Homo sapiens: one gene and its partners. The protein of the gene in region 1 interacts with the protein of each later gene in a biochemical or structural test. Each region holds a gene or a part of one and is shown on either strand. Other genes may lie near its edges.

The links.
Region 2: the proteins of SCGN (region 1) and CROCC form a complex in vitro, tested with the Homo sapiens proteins (one study listed by BioGRID).
Region 3: the proteins of SCGN (region 1) and KIF5B form a complex in vitro, tested with the Homo sapiens proteins (one study listed by BioGRID).

The regions. Positions count from the first base shown.
Region 1 is NC_000006.12:25,696,750-25,702,697, reverse strand, and holds the end of SCGN (secretagogin), read right to left. Parts: intron 5,273-5,948; exon of another isoform or gene 3,724-5,272; intron 1,492-3,723; coding exon 1,363-1,491; 3' UTR 915-1,362; downstream 1-914.
Region 2 is NC_000001.11:16,917,404-16,925,256, reverse strand, and holds the start of CROCC (rootletin), read right to left. Parts: upstream 3,327-7,853; 5' UTR 3,239-3,326; coding exon 3,179-3,238; intron 2,595-3,178; coding exon 2,459-2,594; intron 933-2,458; coding exon 778-932; intron 1-777. UniProt on the Homo sapiens protein: Major structural component of the ciliary rootlet, a cytoskeletal-like structure in ciliated cells which originates from the basal body at the proximal end of a cilium and extends proximally toward the cell nucleus.
Region 3 is NC_000010.11:32,046,100-32,053,978, forward strand, and holds part of KIF5B (kinesin-1 heavy chain), read right to left. Parts: intron 4,425-7,879; exon of another isoform or gene 4,211-4,424; intron 2,453-4,210; coding exon 2,365-2,452; intron 1-2,364. UniProt on the Homo sapiens protein: Microtubule-dependent motor required for normal distribution of mitochondria and lysosomes. Can induce formation of neurite-like membrane protrusions in non-neuronal cells in a ZFYVE27-dependent manner.

The sequences.
Region 1 (5,948 bases):
AGGGATTTGGTGAAGATTAAATTACTTAAGGTATGGAAAGCACCTAGAAGTACTTGGCACATAGAAAGCACTTAGTAAATAGCAGTTCTTAATATGAATTATCTATATGTTGGAGGTAAGGGTGACATGAAGGGAAGAAAATCAGGTTAGGACGACGGTGTGCAATGAAGGGAACCCCTGTAAACAGAATTCGTGGGTTATGAACAGCTCTAAATACACTGTTCTACACTAATTTTTCTGAATTATCTGTAACACTTCACTAAGCCTGAAATTACTACACAGTCTAGTATAAGGTAGGGGTGTTATGAAGAATAAAGGATGAAGACAGTAAAGGAAAGTGGGGCCTACCCTGCAGAAACTCTCCCCTTGCCCCAACAGTCTCCTTTCCATGGGGATGGCATCAGAGTTCCAGGAGAGAAGAGAGCAGGGCACATGTTGGGGCCAGGAGCATGCAGAGGCACCCATGAGAGGCACTCACGTACCTAGAAGAAGGCTGTCGTGGTCCCAGATTTGCTGGGGAGCACTGTTGGAAAAGGAAGGGATGGAGAGGGGAGCCCGGGTTACTTGGGAAACATTTTCTTCATACTTCTTCTCTATATCTACCTGCCTAGCCATGTGAGCTCACCAAGCACTTAAGAACAAACCCCAGTCCAGGATGAGTGTTCTGGTCTCCTCCTTCCAATAAAAAGTGATTATTGGCAGCTCTCACTTTAATGCCAGCTCACCAGGAAGTCAGCCCTAGTGAGGGCATGTGAGGACTATAGAAGGATTGGTGGTGTGGATTTCTTTTAAGATATTGCCCTTCACTCTCCTTCTCCACCATTCCCCCGATCCCCATTAGATAAGGGGTTTGTTAGTCAAACCATCAGGTAGAACATTTCAAAGGTCACAAGACAAAAGCAATTACCAGTACATTTTTGTTTCCAATTGCAGATTTATTTCCACACACACAAAAAAATCTATGTTGAAGTTACAGGATTGCCATGAATGCCACACACCTTTCAGACTAAGCAGAAAGCCCACAAGAAAAGCACAAAATGAATGCACTCAGCTGCCCCTGTCCCCCCCACCCTGGTGACTGGGGAAGGACAGGCAGAGCCATCTAACAGGGGAGCTGAGTCTTTGGGAGGATAGGAAAGCCCAGGGTCAAGGGAAAACAACACAGACACTACACAGGGGCTTTCAGTGAGACAGGGATAGATCACGCCGGTGGAAGGAAGGCCCTAGCGTCCCTGTTCTTGCCCAAGAATAGCACACCATTTGTGAGTTTGCCCACTGTGTTCCCAACATCAATGCACAGATACAATTCTACCAGCAAGATCACAGAAACATAGTAAGAGCAAAAGGCAAAGCAGTCTGGGATTATGGGTTGATTTTCAGCCCAAGACACAAAGCCAGCTCAGACTTCTGAATTTTTCCATCCTTGTTCACGTCGCAGTGACGCAGGAGAATCTCGCGGAACTTATCAAGGTCCACCCCGCTGATGCTGGGCTGAGGGCGACAAAAGTAACATGTTAACAGGCAAGCCAATGGTGTTCTCACCCTTTAACACCCTCTCTGATGCTCCCTAAGCTTAGGGTGTCCTGCCTTGAAGGAGACAGGCCACAGGGAGTGAGGGAATGAGTCTATCGCCTCATCCCACCAAATGCTGCCAAGGATAAGTTTTCTGCCAACAGCTTCATTTCTCAGCATGTCCCTTCAGGCCAAAAAACCTTTACTTCCACATCACTTCCCTGCAGTTCTTAGAAAAAGACTGCCTTATTAGCAACCATAGTAAAGATACTTTGCCGCAAAGTAGGCAATTATGATCATAAATTTCTGCCTTGCTGCACTGATGAGAGAAGACACATTTCATTATCTCCTTGTAGGAGATTTTTGTGCCTCTGGTTTAAAAAAAAATGGTTATACTGAATGTAAATTTAAAACATGTGGTTGAGCTAGGGATGTAATATTTACTCCAAGGGATATGTTAGGGGGCAAGAAAGAATGTTAGCTAGAAACGTGACACATGTTAGCTAGGAAAAGTTTTTTACTTCAAGCTCAAAGGCCTGCAAAAGTGAGGAATGCTTTAACAAATTGATTCTCCATAGGTTATTTCATGTAAGCTTCACAATAATGCTGGGAAGTAAATAATTCCACCTCTTTTACAAATTAGGAAACAGAGGTGCAGAGAAAGCTTAAGCTTCCTGCCAAGCTGGAAAGTTGTGGCAGCATTTTTGAGCCCAAGAATAGTCCAACAGTCCTCTGACAATTGGAGACAGTCCTCAATAGTCCTCTGATTCCAATTGAGTGCTCATTGCAAAATTTCATACCATTCTCATGGAGAAAAGGCTGGTCTAATGAAACTACATGTGTGCTGATGCATCTGTGAATAAACGTCAAAATCAAAGAGCCCATCCTTCAAAATGGATCTCACGTGGTTTACTGGCCCAAAATTTTTTTTTTTTTTTTTTTTTGAGACGAAGTCGCAGCCGTCCCTGCTGGAGTGCAGTGGCAGTGATCTCGGCTCACTGCAACTACCGTCTCCCGGGTTCAAGCGATTCTCCCATCTCAGCTTCCCGAGTGGCTGGGCTTACAGTCACCCGCCATCATGCCCGGCTAATTTTTGTATTTTAGTAGAGATAGGGTTTCATCCTGTTGGCCAGGCTGGTCTTAAACTCCTGACCCCTGGTGATCCGCCCACCTTGGCCTCCCAAAGTGCTAGGATTACAGGAGTGAGCCACCGTGCCCGGCCACTGGCCCTAAATTTAAAATAGATCCAAGTGGCCCTTTTTTGACTAGAGATGACAGCTTACTCAAGTACCCTGAAAACCAGCACCTTTTTCTTTTTAGGGCTTTCAGAGCTCACCCGAACCAACCAATCAGAACTCAGTTAAATTAACCAATCAGGACTCAGCTCTATTGACCAATCAGAACTTGGCTCCAATAACCAATCAGAACTAAGCAAGTTTGAATCCTTTATTTGCACAAACAGAACTAACTGGCAACATGGGTGGGCACTGACTTTGTAAAATCCAAACCCCCTTTTGTTCTCTGCACCCTGGTTTACACTGAAAAGTGTGTCCTCCATTTTCCCATTTTCTTTTCTTTTTTTTTTTTTTTTTTTTTGAGACAGAGTTTCAGTCTTGTCACCAAGCTGGAGTGCAGTGGTGCCATCTCAGCTCATTGCAACCTCCGCCTCCCAGGTTCAAGCAACTCTCCAGCCTCACCCTCCCAAGTAGCTGGGATTACAGGTGCCCACCACCACACCCGGCTAATTTTGTATTTTTTCAGTAGAGACAGGGTTTCACCATGTTGGCCAGGCTGATCTCAAACTCCTGACCTGAGATGACACACCTGCCTCGGCCTCCCAAAGTGCTGGGATTAGAGTCCTGAGCCATTGTGCCCAGTCCCGTTTTCAAACTATTAACGGGAATAAAGCCTTTCCACCAAATTCCTTTTCAGAAAACTTCTGTTCACAAATCTAAATTTAAAAGTCAATGTACAGAGAGAAAAACAAAAAACAAATTTAGTCAAATTTCCAAGCCCCTTGATTACTGGAGTAGTTTTATGAGTGAATAGAGAAGGCAGCGACCCGCAGGTTTGATTTCAGGGGCTCTGGGAAGCACTCTCCATTACCCAACCCTGCCCCAAGGTTTTCTTGCTTCCAAAAACAAAATCACTAAAAACATCATCAGTAGGGGAAGAAAAAAAAATTGTTCCTTAACTAGCCAAGCCACGTTAAGACTCGTTAATTTGCACTGTCCAATGGGGTAAATGACTGACACCAAATCTATTATTGATAGCAGGTTTAAAATAGGAGGAAGGAGGAAAGAGCAACAGAAATTGGGAGCCAGATGGCAGAGCAGGAAAAATAAACACCAGAGTAGGCCTGGTATTCAGAGAGATATCAGGAGCTGAAAGTCTGGGACCAGAAGATAAACTTGATCAACTTCACTCTTCTGTGGAGAGTGGCCTGAATGATTAGACTCTGAGGCCACAATGTAACTCGACCTTGTCAATAGGTTCTCTTGTAGTTCTCTGCCAGTACCAGGCAAGTATAGATGTGGCCCAAGGAAATGTGGCTCAGAGGTCCTGAAAACAGCAGGCTGCATTCTGAGACCCCCTGGTGGGAGTTCATTTGTTGTACAGTGCAATGTGGGGATGTTTGCTTTTCAGCATCTTCAGTGACTTGTTGGTAAAACTTTTCTCCACTAAACGGCCCCAGGATCCTTTTGGCAAATCCCATTATTAGAAAATACTCAAGTGGTAGTCATTTACACATTAGTGTGAATTAATTTGCCAATGTATTTACCTCATTCAAACTATTCTAAGTTTGTTTTTGTTTTGTTTTGTTTTGTTTTCTAATTGAAGAATAATGGACTTTGTTTCCCACCATAGTAATTATTTCCTTCAAGTGAGTAGAAAATATTTTTGGTGTATGAATGCATGTGTATTAGGGGATGTGGGAATGAATGTGGATGTATGTAAAGGAAGTTCCTTTGGACCTTTTGAGTTATGTTTTTAATATTGGGCAACTCAATATGAGTCAGGAGACCTAAATGCCACAGCTCAAAAATGCACGTGTCACTGAAGACAAATCACCAGAAACCTTTAGAGCCTCAGTCTTAACAACAGTTTTTATAACAAGTGACTAATATAAGTGCAGATAGGTTCCTGAGGTAAGAGCTCTAAATATATTAACTCTAATCTTCAGAACAACCCTAGGAGGTTGTATCTACTTTCATCATTAATTTATAGATGAGTAAACTAAAGCACAGAGAGGTTAATTAACTTGCCCACTGTCACACAGCTGACACATGTCAGAACCAAGATACAAATCCAGGCAGTCAGGTCCCAAAGTGTATATTTTTTATCACTACACTGTATCATAATCTTTCATGTAAAAATGTAACTTTTTCCTCTTTCATCTCATAGGACAGTGTGAGAGTGGATCTGAAATAAAATTGATTGAAAAATGCTGACCTGTCTCCCTTTAATCTTGGCAATAGGGGGACCTTTGGGGCTGGCCTTCTCTTCCCAATTCTTGCCCATAGTAGGTGCTCAATTATATCTATGAAATTAGTGAATGACTATCCTCAAATGCAGCCTTCCTGTTTTTGTCATACACCTACCCTTTCCTGTACATTCCAATTCTCTTAAAATAATTAAAGTTCATATCCAAGCCTTCTGTTAACCAGCACTTCACAAATCTCTATCCTAGAGTCATCATGACTCCAACACTGGACCATATTCTGACCACTAGAGGAACTGAATTAGAGTTTCACTGATGGTAAGTGCATTTTATTGTAACCCACTTAAAATAATTCTCTACCAATCAAAATATTTAATTAACCAGAACCTTATTCTGTAACCATGCAAAATTACAACATGTTTTCTGTCTCCAGTTTGCTATTTATTGGCCACACTGGTGTTTGAAAACATTGAGGCGACAGGCAGAAGTTAAGACATTATTGCTTAAGATATCTGTCCAGGTCTCTACCAACAAGCCTCTGCTTGTTTACAAATTATCACCTGCCATTGCTTTTTAAAATGAAAATAAGAAATTACATTGGTGTTCCTTTAGGATCACTTTACTAGGCAAATGGAAACGTCTGCTCAGATACTGGGAAGTCTCCTAGAGAGTGGTGTACCCAGCAGTGCTTTAATTTGAGAAGCTCCAGGAAGAACCTCTTCAGTCTTTCAACTTTCTTCCCATCGCTAGTTTCCACCACATTCTTTTATATCTAACAAAAAACATTCTTTTGTTAGATATTCACTCTTTGGGATTACATTTTCTTCTCCTTGCCACCTATCCTCTCTTTTCAAAGTTTTTCATCACCCAAGAGATGGCAGCACGTTAAGTCCCTAACATAATAATGCGAAAACATATAGTATATATACCAGAATGCTATCTTCCGTGATAGACAAAGCTAGGTCAAAATGAAGTCATCAGCAACTTTCTGGGT
Region 2 (7,853 bases), on another chromosome or scaffold:
TGTTAATACGTTATTGCCACCTGCATGCCTCTCATCTGCACACATACACTCTGTCCCAGCTGCGAGTGTCCCTTACCAATCTTCAGCCACCACCAACTTCCCAGGGCCACCTCCCGGCCACCCGGAGGCCCAAAGCAGACAGTGCATCAAGAGCATCCCGCACCCCTCGCACCGGCTCACACCCAGCTCCCGCCCCACACCCTGGGACCCCCACAAGCCTGCAGCACGGGTGATGTGAATCCTGCCTGGACATGAAGACAGGCCTGCTTCTCCTTCCTTCCCTGCCTGGAACTCATTCCAATAGGCAGTGGCGGCAGGTCTTGTGGCTGCCCCAGATGGGCTGCAGAACACCGCGGGTGCCCACACCAGCCTCGAGCCAGCATCCAGCCACCGCCTCAACCCCAAGGCCCGTGGCAATGGGAGATGCCCAGAAACTCAAGGGGCAGGAATCTTTAGGGATCTCATTCTCCGTGTCCCACACCCCTAACAGGCCTGGGACAGATGGGAACAAAATACCCCTGGTGCCAGGCACTTTATTCTATTATCTCCTTGATTCCTACAATTCCACGTCCCATTACAATCCCCACTACAGAAAACAGGCTTAAAGAGCATAGTGATTTGCTCAACGCCACTCAAGGTGGCAGAGCCTCAATCCAAGCCCAGGCCAACCTGACTCCAGGGCCCATCTTTTGCCCCGTGTGTGGGCCTGGTCTAGATGCCTCCCTGCCCTTGAACGAGGGGAACCCTGGCCTAGTCCACCACCTGGGCGGCACCCACCCTCTCGCTGACCGCATTGTACTTAATGGCGAGCTCATCGCGCTCGGCACGGCTCTGGGCCAGCAGGTCCTCCACGCGGGACAGCTCCTGCTGCAGCAGCTGGTTCTCCTCCTGCAGCGACAGCAGCGATGCCATCTCTGTGGCCGGCAGCAGGACTGGCAAGGGACAGTGGGCACATGGTTGGCTTCTGGGTCCAGTGGGACATCCTCCCCCCAACAGGGAGGGCAAGAAAACCATCCAGGCCCCTGGGAGGAGTCCAGATGGGAATGGCTGCAGCACCAGGCCTGCAAACAGAGCTGAGAACAGGGAGGAAGGCAAGGAGGGGATACAAAGCTGGACGTAAAGTGAACACAACTCCAGCTAAAGTGTGGCCCAGCAGGTTTGGGAGGTGCAGGAGAGACACTCAGTCTAGGAGCCAGGAGACCCCTGAGTTCTTGCTCCCTCCTTTTCCAATTAGTCTTCTTCTCCGGGGCCTCAGATTTACTTATCTGTAATATGGGTGGGGCGGGCACGGACTCACGCCTGTAATCCCAGCACTTTGGGAGTCGAGATAGGAGGATCACCTGAGGTCAGGAGTTTGAGACTAGCCTGGCCAACACGGCGAAGCCCTGTCTCTACTAAAAATACAAAAATTAGCTGGGCATGGTGGTGTATGCCTGTAGTCCCAGCTACTTGGGAGGCTGAGACAGCAGAATCACTTGAACCGGGGAGGTGGAGGTTGCAGTGAGCTGAGATTGCGCCACTGCACTCCAGCCTGGGCAACACAGCGAGACTCTGTCTCAAAAAAAAAAAAAAAAAAAAAAAAGGTAGAATAGTAGTAACCAGATCCTCCCAGAAAAGCATCAAAGCCTCGCTCAAGAGAAGGGCTTCATGGAACTTTAAAGGCTAGGGCTCAGGAGAGCATAGCATAGGTCAGGTTGTGAGGAGAAGGAGAAAGAGAGAAGAGGGAAAGAAAGGCCAGCGGGAGAAGCGGGGTTGTCCACCTCCTGTGGGTTCCCCTTCTACCCTGGGAGAACTGGACATACACCCCAGGTGTCAGGGTGAGGGCCCTCTGAGTCTCTCCCTGTCTGGGGCTCCAGGGCGCCAACATCCCTGGCGCTCCCAAGGAGGGGGCCCGTCTGTAGCTTGGGAGTTGAACACAGACAATGGTTAGAGCACCAAAACGCCACACGCCAGCACACCAGCTGCAACTGAGTGTGCCTTTCCCAGATCCTCAAGCCACATAACTACACCGTGTGCGCCACCCACTGAGAGGAGCAGGGACCATCCGCCTTCCTGCCCACGTGGGAAACGGATGGACGGCGCCATCCACTCAGACTTCCGCAAAACCCTGGTCTGAGCTGAGCTGCCCTCTTCCTGTATCTTGGGTTCAGCCAGCTCACACCTTCCCCGGGTGGGAATACGGGATTTGGGGTTCACATCTCTGCAGCAGGCTACAGGCAAGCACGCAGGAGATGCTCGGCCCTTCCTTCTAGTTGCACCACATGCGGAATAAGTCTGGACAAATTACATCCCTGAGCCTCTGTTTCCTCATCTGTAAAATGGGTTCTTCTGTCATAAAGCTGTGCCTGCCCCACAGTGAGTTACAGTCATGATCATCATGGTGACTGCTCAGGAAAGGGACATGAGAAGAGGTAAAATGTGGGTGGTGTTTGTGGAGGGGAGCGGATGGGGGTGGCACCTGGGCTCTCAGGCTGGGAGAGGTTGCGGGTGACAATCTCCCTGATAAGGGCAGGCAGGCTGGTGATCTGAGCGTCCTGGGCCAGGTCCCGCGCGCCCAAGCCTTTCTCCTGGCACAGGACGCTGCTCTCCAGTGTCTGTGGGAAAAGCGAGAGGGTCTTCAGGGGACATGGGACCCGGGGCTCCCTGGCCTCGTGGGGAGAGCCACAGAATCCTACTGCCCAAGATACAGGTCCCCAGGAGCCCCCTCAAGATGGAGTGAAGCCTGGGAGTTAGAATCCAAAAAATCCCCATGCAAAGAGCCTCTTGTGTGCTCACTGCCCCAGGAAGAAGGCCCAGGGCCAGAGATGAGAACCAAACCCTACGGGTAACTCCCAAACCCCACTGGAGGCAGTCCAGTGTTGGGGGCCCCAATCCGGTTCCGACCCTAGATGGATGAGGATCTGGCTATGCCAGAGGTCCCCCAAGCCCTAAAATCTGGCAGTAGAGACCCCCTTCTCCCAACCCAGGGCACTGGGATGAGGGAGCCACAGCAGGTGCACCCTGTGTGTACCTCTGCCCCCCATCTTGCCAGGAACTGCAAGCGGGGGGCCCCTGTATACCCCACCACCACCACACCTCTCCCACCCCTTGATCCCCAAGACGCACACACCTCTCACCACTCCTGTTAAGTCCACGCTGCCCCGCCCCAGACAGGGTGGGCACAGCCCCCAGGACCCACCTGGATAACCGTCTCTAGTGTCAGCTCCACCTCCTGTGCCCCCGCCAGCCCCAAGCTCATGGGGGGGAGGCTGTGGGCATGCCTCCAGCCCCCTTCTCCAGGACCCCAAGACTAGCTCAGTCAGCACGCGCCACAGCCAGGATGCTGTGCTGAGCACCAGGCAGATTAAGCTTAAATCCGGCGGCGCCCCCATGTGACCACCGCGGTGGGAGGAGCAGGATGTGGGCTGAGGAGGGAGGGGATGGGAAAGGACAGGAGAGGAGGGAAGCAGAGGCAGGGAGCCAAAGGAAGAGGAAGGATGAAGAGAGGGGAGGAGAAGGGAGAGAAAAGGAGGGAGGAGAGAGAAGAGGGAATGGGAGGAGGAAACAGGGGAGACACCTGGAGGTCAGGACCTCACACACTCTTCACCCTGCGCAGGTTGCTGGGTCCTAGAGCCCTCCAAGCCCAGGGGGTGGGGTCAGTAGCCATGCGGCGGGAAAGGCCAGAGTCCTAAGTATTTGTGACCATCTTTCTGGCCCAGAACGGGAGTCACATGGTTAGCTAAGAATGAGAGGATTTACAGCATGCTGGGAGTATGTTTTCCCACAACAGGTGTAGGGCAAAGAATGCAGGCTGTGAGATCACCCAGGCCAGGCTTGGCACTTAGTTGGGCATGAGCGGTCCAGCCTGGACTGATGAGCATTTATGCAACACCTGCGGCATTCCTAGGTCTGACCTAGACACAGTGGTAGAGCCTCGAACTACAAATGCCCTAGCCTTGCCCTTCAGGCACTTATTGGGAAGCTTCTGGCCCCTTCACACCCACCCCAGCCCCCACTAGCTGGGTGCACCAGGGACACTGACTTTGCCTCTCTGAGACTCAGTGTCCTCTTACGTAAGATGTGATAATATTGGTACTCATCTCTCGGAGCCGTCCGGGGATGAAACAGTATCGTGTGTGCATACCCAGCACATGACATGGTGCTGGGGGGTCACGTGGCCAACACTCAAGAAATACTCATTTCATTCATTTGAAAATCCAGAAGGTACAGTCCCAGCCAGGCGCAGGCACTCATGCCTGTAATCTCGGCATTTTGGGAGGACAAAGCGGGTGGATCACCTGAGGTCAGGAGTTCAAGATCAGCCTGACCAATATGGTGAAACCCCGTCTCTACCAAAAATACAAAAATTAGCCGGGTGTGGTGGTGCACACCTGTAATCCCAGCTACTTGGGAGGCTGAGGCAGGAGAATCGATTGAACTCAGGAGGCAGAGGTTGCAGTGAGCCAAGATCGCGCCATTGCACTCCAGCCTGGGCAACAAGAGTGGAACTTTGTCTCAAAAAAAAAAAAAAAAAAGGCACAGTCCCTATATCCCAGGGCCCTGAGACCCAGAGGTCACCCACCACCTCCCATTGTTCTTTCCCTGGGGCAAGGAGGCTATGTGCTCTAGTGCTTAGGCGCACAGCTCTGGAGTCAGTATCAGGTCTGAGGTTGCATGTGAGACTCAGCTCTGTCACTTGCAACTATGGTGTTCAAGACAGTAAGACCTTGAACAGGTTACCTCCCTGAGCCTCAGTTTTCTCATCTCTAAAAGGAGACTAAACCAGGCCAGGTGCAGTGGCTCAAGCCTCTAATTCCAGCACTTTGGGAGGCTGAGGCGGGCAGATCACTTGAGGTCAGGAGTTTGAGACCAGCCTGGCCAACATAGTGAAACCCCATCTCTACTAAAAATACAAGAATTGGCCTGTAATCCCAGCACTTTGGGATGCTGAGGCAGGCGGATCAGGAGGTCAAGAGATTAAGACCATCCTGGCCTACATGGTGAAACCCCGTCTCTATTAAAAATACAAAAATTAGCTAGGCATGGTGGTGCACACCTGTAGTCCCAGCTACCTGGGAGGCTGAGTCAGGAGAATCGCTTGAACCTGGGAGGCAGAGGTTGCAGTGAGGCGAGATCATGCCACTGCACTCCAGCCTGGCGACACAGTAAGACTCCGTCTCAAAAATATAAATAAATAAATAAATAAATATAAAAAAAATTAGCTGGGGCGTGGTGGCATGTGCATATAATCCTAGCTACTCAGGAGGCTGAGGCAGGGGAATCACTTGAACCCAGGAGGAGGAGGTTGCAGTGAGCCGAGATTGTGCCACAGCACTCCAGCCTGGGTGACAGGGCAAGAGTCTGTCTCAAAAAAATAAAATAAAATAAAATGAGACTAGACCGAGTGTGGTGATTCAGGTCTATAATCCCAGCACTTTGGGAGGCCAAAATGGGAGAATCGCTTGAGCCCAGGAGTTTGAGACCAGCCTGGGCAACATAGCGAGACTCTGTCCTACCAAAAACAACAAAAAAATGCGACTGATAGTACCTACCACACCTGGCAGGTGGTGAGCTATTAGCCAATGGGGGCCACTGTTCCTATTGTCATTAGCATCACGTGTCTGGGCTCCTGCCCTTAGAGTTGTAAGCCCTAAAAAAGGACAGGAATTGCTCACTCGAGGAGCTCGGCTTTTAAGACACAAGTCTCCTGAAGTTCCCAGCCGAATAAAGTTCCTTCCTTCTTTAACCTGGTGACTGAAGAGTTTTGCCTGCGGCTTGTCCTGCTACACTGCTATGCCTCAGCCCTCCGTCCCTGGGTGCCCTCTGCTCCATGCTGTGCCCCAAAGGGGGCATATTCACATTATCTCATTAAATCCTTACTTCAACCTATTTCCAGATGAGAAAACTGAGGCTCAGAGACATTGGGCTCTCACCTATTCAAGGCGACATGCTTCAGGGAAGTGGTGAGCCCAAAGCTCATTCCACTTAGACCAGCAGCCTCCCAATGAGTGACTGAAGGGCAAGGCCGAGGCATTTGCGCTTTGAGGCTCTACTTCTGTATCCAGGTCAGACCCAGAATGCCACGGTGCTGTATAAATGCTCATCAGTCCAGGCTGGACCGCTCACGCCCAACTAAGGAAACTGCCCTGCAAATGGAAAACCAAGAAACAGGTCTGAAAAGATAAATGTTGCCAAGTTGCAATGGCAAGCAAGCCAGATTTGGGCAAAACTAAACCAGCTACTGGCCAGGTGCAGTGGCTCATGCCTGTAATCCCAACACTGGGATGCCGAGGCAGGTCGATCACTTGAGGTCAGGAATTCTAGACCAGCCTGGCCAACGTGGTGAAACCCCGTCTCTACTAAAAATACAGAAATTAGCTGGGCATGGTGGTGGGTGCCTGTAGTCCCAGCTACTCGGGAGGCTGAGGCACAAGAATCACTTGAAACTGGGAGGCAGAGGTTGCAGTGAGCTGAGATCGCACCACTGTACTCCAGCCTGGGTGACAGAGAGAGACTCTGTCTCAAAAAAAAAACAAAAACAAAAAACTAAACCGGCCAGCAGATAGAGCTGCCACTACAAACCCCAGGGACGCCCACTCTTCTACCTCTAGGCAGCCTCCAAAAAATCCCCTCTACAGGCTGCACACCTGCCCACCAGAACAGGGGGGAAGCCAAAAATACCCCTGGACCAGCATGTCCAGCCCTGCATGCCCAGCTCAGCAGAGGGGGCCCCAGATGTCCTTGAGGGACTGAACTGGATTATTCTGTGCCTTCTCCTGACCACGGCCCTAAGGGTTGGAGGAAGGGGACAGGATGTCAGCCCCTGGCACCAGGTGACATTCACCCTTGGCTCCATCCCCAAAGTTCTCCCCCAGAGTCCTGCTGGGTTCTGTGGGTCCCAGGAAGTCATATCTGAACCTCGTGTATGTGTCCACTGCTTCCACCCAATTCTCCAAAAAAAAAAAAAAAAAAAAAAAGACTGAATTCCTCTTAGAAATCTGGATGCTAACAGCTTCAGCATCTGGCCACCTGGACTCCAATCTTGGCTCACCAGCCCCTCACCAGCTGTGTGACCCTGCACCAGTGTCTTCACTTCTCTGAGCTTCAGTTTCCTCATCTGCAAAATGGGATAATAATGGTGCCTGTTTCTAGCATGAGCATTAAATAAAATACTCCGTGCTAAGCTATATGCCTGGATATGGTGTGGCAGAAACTGCAATGTGCTCACCACAAAGCATTTCCGATTCCTCTTAGGAATATGGCTAAAAGCCATTTCCCAGACTCCCTTGCAGTCAGATACGGCCATGTGGTCAAGTTCTGGTCCATAGAATTAAGACAGAAAGACAGCGTGCCACTTTAGGCTTGGTCCATAAAATTATTTCTCTCCTTCCTGGTCCATCAGCTAGAAGGAAATAACTCCAAGGTCCTAGGGGATGCCGCAACCACAAGACAGAAGGGATCTCGGTCCCTGGGTCGCCACATAGAAAGCCACCTGCCAAACACCCAACAGGGCTTTTCATGAATGAGAAATAAACTTCTATTGCGCTAAGCCTCTGAGAATTCAGGGTTTCACTATCACATTAGCTAGTGTTACCTTAATTACTACCTGCAGTTCAACAGCGGGTAAGTGTTGGCTATTACTACTGTTATCATTACTATCATGAGTATTATTGGCTCTTTCTAGTCCCCAAGCTAGAACCCTGTGCCTTGTTCTAGATGCTGAGACATTATTTGGTGACCAAATACAGAGGAGACACCCTTTGTACCCTTCCCTCCCCACTACCACCCTCCAAACTTGCCTTTTGCCAGGGCTAGCGGCAGGAACTAGCCAAAAAGCCCCTCAAAGATTACTCGTTTCAAACATAGCAGCTGCT
Region 3 (7,879 bases), on another chromosome or scaffold:
CAAAATGGAATCTGCACTTTAAAGGTTTGCTCTCCAAAGTGCAAGTATGGAATGGGGCTTAAAGCTGGCGGCAAGAGATACAAAAAAGACCTGTATATTCAAATTGCCCATGAATTCATGAATCGGTAACTTTCTATTGGTTAGAAAGCTAATGTAATCTTAAACTGTACTGATGAGACAGAAGTATGTCTCAATCAAAGAATGTAGTAAAATTGTGTTCTATGATCGATCCCTCTGGAAAACCACATGATGCTTACAACATGATGACCCTGTTCCTCTTTGTTGCAGTCATTTACACAATTACAAGTGTTAATTCCCCTTCATTTTATGAAGATGTCAGTACCCAGTTCACTCTCTCTCACCAATACCATTACTGTTGTAATAAAACAGTACTGGTGGTTTCAAAGTCTGTAGCAGATAATCCCACTAAAATAACCTGGCCTCTCAGCTCCTTGACCAAATTTTCTGCGATCTTATTCTTTCTTCATTTTTATTTTAAAAACAGAGATGGGGTCTCGCTGTTGCCCAGGCTGGTCTCAAACTCCTGGCCTCAAGCAATCCTCCCACCTCAGCCTCCCAAAGTGCTGGAATTACAGGTGTGACCCACCATGTCTGGCCTTATCCTTTCTTTACTACCTCGGAAGTCAACTCCATGACAACACCTTTACCTTTTCATTACTAACTGCATTGCTTCCATAATCTCAATTTCAAGTAGAGATACTAATCAACTTACGATGGGGTTACTTCCTGATAAATGTTCTGTAAGTTGAAAATACCCTAAGCTGAAAATGCATCAAACACATCTAACCTACCAAACACCATGGCTTAGCCTAGCCTACTTTAAATGTGCTCAGAACACGTACACTGATCTACAGTTCAGCAAAACCATCTAACACAAAGCCTATTTTATAATAAAGTGTTAAATATTTCATATGATTTATTGAATACTATACTGAAAGTGAAAAACAGAATGGTTGTACAGGTACTAGAAATATTTCTATTGAATATTTCTATTGAATGTGTATTGCTTTTGCACCATCGTAAAGTCGAACAATTTTAAGTTGTTCTAAGTCAGGGACTGTCTGTATTCACCTTCTATTACTCCGTCCAGTACCCTGATTCCAACAAATCTTTGACCCCACTGAGATCTACAACCCACTAATGTTACCACCTTTTTTCACTGCCCTTCAGCCTCCCTCATATCCTTCTTCCTGTAACTTAACCACCTTAGATCCCATGGTCCACCATTATAATCACTCCTTTGACTATATCCTCAATTCTCTTGTCCCCCACTTCCCTCTTTTGTACTCACCTAGCAAAACTCCAAATGGGCAAAAATTCAACTCTTTCAGCAGCTAACCTTGAGTGGGCCCTTAATACTGCCTGGCAATACTCTCACACTGCCTGAATCCATCCATTTCATGCCTTTTCCTAGAACCTCTTCCCCCTTCCTCATCTCCATGATGACTTTGCTCCCTGTATTAGACAATATGAAATTGATATAATGAGTACATACACATTTTCCCTCCCTCACCTCATCTATAAACCTTCTATAACTCCACTTTATCTCCTGTTACTAGGATGAGCATCTGTGCTCCTATGCTATCCTAATCCACCTATTTTTATACTGAATCCCAATTCTTTTAATGTGGTGAATGCCACAACACAGATTTTGCCTCAATCTAAGAAGCACTTTGTAACAACTACAGCTGTCAAAAAATGAAATAAATCATATCACAAAGTAACAGCCATTCCTTTGATTAAACAGATTTCTACAGTAACTGGAAGTAACTCCAGATAAACAATGAGCACTCTCTCAGCTTTAAAATTCAATGGTTTTAGAATATATAAAGTTATAAATATTCTTGTATAAGTTATAGTATTAACTGGAATGTACATACTTTTCTCACCCTTGGCAACCCTTGTTAAATTCCTCAAGGGATAGGTAAGTCTTTGGGGAAGGAATAACAATGGAATGGAAGAATGATAGACTGCCATTTTCCACTACTTTTTAGAAATGTGTCTAGCCCTTTTGTTTTCATTCTCATACTGTTCTCTTTCTAGAACTGCCACCTTGGAAACTCTCCTGGGAATATCTAACAGAAATGCATCTCTTAAGAATAAGTGTGTAACATAGTTCTCATAATAACCTTAATTAGGTACTGTATATAATTAGATCATGGAATTTGAGCAATAGAATATTTACTAATTGTGTTTGACCTTTTTATTATTTAAACAACTTTCTTCTGCAATTAACTTAGAAGAAAGGGGCATTAAAATGAAAAAAGGAAGCTGAGTAAGTAGAAAAGATCACAAACTTATTTACTTATTGCTGAGACAACTCAGCAGGTTGAATATATTTACCTTTAACAATCTTCTTTGCACAGTCATTATACACTTGCTCTTGAGATGTGCTTGACTGGAACACCCGATCAAATGCATAAGGCTTGGACTGAAAAACAAAAAAGTGTTTCAACTATACAAATTAAAGGTAAATGAACATTTCTAACCTTTACAGATGCCATCATATAATATATTTAATCCTCAAAATAGTATACCTAGTATGCATAATTTGGTATCATTGAATCTTTGAAGTAGAAGGGATCACCATGCACAAATCCATTAGAATAAACTCCAGGAAAACAAGAATGGTCTTTAGTCTTTGCTGCATTCCCAGGGCCCAGTAATTACAATTATAATTCCCAGTAATTATAATTAGCACTACTATGGCAGCCAAATATTGCTGAGTGATTTTTATTTTTTTAAATACCTATTTATTTATTTTTGAGACAGGGTCTCGGTTCTGTCACCCAGGCTGGAGTGCAGTGGCACAATCACTGCTTACTGCAGCCTCAACCTCCTGGGCTCAAGAAATCCTCCCACCTTAGCCTCCTGAGCAGCTGGGACTAGAGGCATGTGCCACCATGCTATGTTGCCCAGGCTTGTCTTGAACTTCTGGGCTCAAGAGATCCTCCTGCCTCAGCCTCCCCAAGTGCTCGGATTACAGGTGTGAACCACCATGCCTGTCCTGCAACAGCTTTTCAACCATTCTTTCATTTAACAAATACTTATGGAATGTGAGATGACATGCTAGAATGATAACCAAGAGATTCCCTCTCTGCTTTAGTGGAGCATAAATAATAGTGGGGCAGACATTAAAAAATTAAGTGACCAGAATTCTGACTCATGCAATTGAGTGCTATGAAAGTGCAATGAGAGAATATAGGAGGAGAACCTAAGTCTACGGGAAAGCAGAATATCACGGAAACACCCTTGGAGAAAGAATATTTAAGAACTGAAAAATACGCAGCAACTAACTCATCATCACTCTCCCCAGTATTAGTCATGAAGGGTGAAAAAGGTTTCGTGTAGGAAAGTAGTCTAGGCACTGGGAGGATACTTAAAGATCCTAAGGCAGAAAGAACAGTGTAGCATTCAAGAAACCAATGGAAGTTGTTAAGTTGAAGTACAAGGAGCAAGGATCAAATGCAAATATCAAAACGGTTAAAAAGACATCATCTTATTCTGAAAACAGCTTTGATCTTCTGGACCCCAGAAATGATACTGGGGACTCCATGGACCACTCTCAGAGAACCACTAATATAGTCTGAGAAGGAGCCAGGGGTATTGAACAAAAAAAAAAAATCAGTGGTGTCCATGCAAGTCAAAAAATAATAATTTTCAAGGAGGGAGTGATTATGTCAAATACAGTTGTGAGGCCAAGACAAAACTAAAAAGTACTCAATGACAAAGGTCAGATTGGAATGGATTGAAAAAGAATGGGAGGTAACCAAGTGGTGCAGAAAATCTGCTGTATGTCTAAGAAAGTTATTTTTTTTTTAAGACTTGTAAGACCTGAGGTAGTTTAAATGCTTGCAGGAACAATTTTAATAATCTAGGAGAAAGAGTAGGTATCCAAAAATAAGAGGCAAGGGGTTCTAGGTATTTGCAAGTATCTGCCTGCTCTCTAGTTTCTCCTAAAGGAAAGGAAGGAAGTTGGGCCCTAAAACACAAAACAATCATGACCCCAGAAAAAGCCCTTAACATTAGAAAACACTTCCTAAGTCTTAGCTGAAAAAGACCTACTACCCTCCACATCCCCACTTCAAAGTCTGAAATAAAAGTAACAATGAACCAGACACTCCTAAAGCCATTCCCAATTCCCCTTTCCCTTGCTACCTCCCAATAAATAGGCCGGAAAGCCAAATACCTGTTAGCCTAGTCTCCCTGCAACTAGTAGTCACATGACCAAGCTCTGAATAATATGAAGTGGCGGTCTGTTCGAGGTCTCTGAGAAGGGTGTTGTTATCCTGATAAAAAGGACCATCTCAGCTAAAACTGCCCTTTCTCCTTCCTGGAATGAATGCCTGGAGCTGTAGCATCCATCTTGCAAATACGACAAACAGGATGATGAAAAGCAACAGCTAAGGACGACAAAGTATAACAGAGTGAGGAACCGTGAAGGGCCTATATCCAGGCTTTTTGTTATGTGAGAAAAACATCCTCTTATTTATTTAAGCCACTATTAGCTGTTGGTTTTTCCTCTAAAGCTGAAAGCATTACTGACAGATACAAGAAGCTGATCTCACTTTGGCATCAATTTAAAATAGGCATCGATGTCTGATTATTCTTTAGTTGTGACATATGTGAACGTATCCTTTTCTCAGATGCTACTGAAACAATTAACATTCAATTCTACAGGTGTGACTAAAAGAAATCTATTATTTTACTGCTGACACAAGATATATTCATGGTGAACAATTCTGAAAACAAACGTTAAGTACAATCAAAATAACAATCGCCACCCAAAAACAAACCATACTAATAGTTTTTTCTATGCAAAAAGAAAGTAATTTTCCCTCATTTATCCAGCAGACATTCATTTAGTGACTATAAAGATATGAGATATTGTAGATGAGTAACACAATTTTAGAAATAATTAGTACAGACTGTAGGGTTCAAAGAGTAATAGAGGATAAGGCCAGATAAAAACCTGAATACTAAGTTAAGTTATACACTTGGATCTAATATAAGTGATCAAGTAATGTCAAGAGAATTTTATATGTATCTACAAATATACTCCTGAGTAGCTGGGACCACAGGCATGTGCCACCACGCCTGGCTAATTTTTGTATTTTTAGTAGAGATGAGGTTTTGCCATGTTGGCCAGGCTGGTCTCAAACTCCTGACCTCCAGTGATCCACCTGCCTCAGCCTCCCAAAGTGCTGGGATTACAGGCGTGATCCACCATGCCTGGCCTCAATTTTTACATCAATAGAAAATAGTGCCCCTAAACCATTTACCAAGAGATATGCCAGAAATAATGTAAACAGCTTCATAATAGTAAACAGTTTTAATAGTAAAGCCTGCCTTCAGAAGTACTTTATGAAGCTGCTTACTCTAGTTATCAACTCCAAGCAAATATATAAACTACCACTACAACCTTACTAAAATAATATAAATGGCAACTATTAAAAGGTAACACACAAACATAAAAATAATTGAGACTGGAGTGATTATCTTTCTAGAAGTTATTGTTAAATAAAAATTAAGTGCTTAGCATTAAGTTGACAAAACAGTCTTATCTTGATTGCAAAACCAAATGATGATTTTGTAATACTAAGTAAGGCAAATGTTTTAATTAAAGATCTAGCCATAAATTACTGACTCTGGCTTCCTGGAATGAAAATCAAGACTCTGTGAAACACAAAAATTATTTCTAATGGTCTATAATTAAGGCATATCTCTATTTTTCAAATAAATTAAAGAAAAACTCATCTGGACATCTGTATTTTTCAAACCTGGTTTTTAGCCTCGAAATGTACATTATGCAGCTTTTAATCCCATGTGTCTTCAAAGATCCCCCAAGTTTCAGATTTCAATATTACTAGTAACTCCAAGTCACAAGATGCATTCACGTCTGATTGATGCTTTAAGGGGACAAATCAAAAAGGAATAAGTTGATCTCAACTGCATACCTTAGGTTCCTTAAGGGAAGTGATTCCTGTTTGAGTATGCACCGACCAGACTGAAGACCAAATTTGGTTATGAAGGACACCCTTCTGGCAGGGATATGTCTTTCTCTGGAATTCTGAATAGCGGATCATTTCAGATCACTTGGGAGTGTATTATATTAGATTTTCCTTAGTTAAACACTATAGTGGGCTAACATTCCACAACTGTAAAGGTATGTGATGATGGTTCCCTCCTCTCCTTCATTTTTCCCTCTTAAGGTAATCAAGAAGGTTCAAACACCAAATCATTCACTTGAAAAGCGAGAATGTTGTTTTGCTTAGGCAAGGAACTGGGCAAGATTATCTAATTAGTTTTATTCTCTTCTAATTTCTCGGAACTACCACAGCTTGTTTTTGGCAGCCTTTACGGTGTACCATATAAGGAATAATGATTTGTAAAGATACTTAATGATGCAAATAACCATATTCTACTTTCATGATTCATAAATAGATAGATGTAATTTTTTTATTGATTTTTCTTCCTGGTGTTTTTAGCAAGCTCCTAATTTTTTCTACTGATTTTTTTCTGGTGTTTCCAGCAAGCTCATTTCAAAGACATAAACTGTTTCCCTGTCCTCCTTGCTTTGCGGTAACAAGTTCTCTAATTTAAAGCAAATAGTTTATATGTATATCGCTTAAAGACTTTCATAAAATAATTCATTTCATTCGATGTTACATTTATAGCACTTCACCAAGCACTTAATTAAAAATAAATTCTGTATTAAAGGCTGTACAGCATACACAGAAACACTATGAAAGATTTGCCTGCCATGGTGTCATATTAAAATCACTGATTACATGAGTAGCAGGAAAAAAGTTTAGACAAAGTATTAAAAACTCAAGTTATAAGAAAATCAGAATCCTTAAAAATTACTTTCTCCATGAGCACTGATTATGCTTCTAACATCATAAACTACAATATTCTTTCAATTTTGATCTAAATAGAAGATTGTATACAAAATGTTCTTAAATCATGTTTTTAAAAATTTAGTTTTAAATGCTGCATTGCAGCAATTCTCTCCTAAACTGTTCATTATGAATCAGGATTAGGAACCAGTAAAATGAAAAAACCAAACCGAGAAGATTTTACCCACAGATTTTCCAATTCCGCTCCTCCTGGCTGCTCTTATAACCTTTTACAAAATGAAATAATTCATTTAAAAAACTGAACAAAAATATGAGACCTCAATAATTAATGTCGTTACTATATGCAAGAAACTAGTTTCTGAAAACAATGAACCAAAACATGTTGCCTTTCATTTTTTAAGGCTATGTTATTCAGTTGTAATGTATTTTTGGTTACACGTTAAAAAAAAAAAAAAAAAACCAGGCCAGGCGTGGTGGCTCATGCCTGTGATCCCAGCACTTTGGGAGGCCAAGACAGGTGGATCACCTTAGGTCAGGAGTTCGAGACCGCCCTAGCCAACATGGTGAAACCCATCTCTACTAAAAATACAAAAATTAGCTGGGCGTGGTAGCGCGTGCCTGTAATCCCAGCTACTGGGGCGGCTGAGGCAGGAGAATCGTTTGAACCCGGGAGGCGGAGGTTGCAGTGTGCCAAGATCACCCCACTGCACTCCAGCCTGGGCAACAAGAGCAAAACTCAAAAATATCTCAAAAAAAAAAAAAAATCTCAAAAAAACAACCAACCAACCAAAAAACAACTAAAATGCTTATCAGCTTACCTAAAGGTTAACTGTTCATTACGGATTCACAAACCAACAATGTATCCATTATTCCTAATATTACCATTTATATAGAGTACTGAAATTTTGAAACGGAACTTATAAGCAACTTTTTCCCAATGGAAACCTAGAATAAATGTATGTTTCCTTTGTTCATTTTCCTTTAGTTCTTTCTTCATA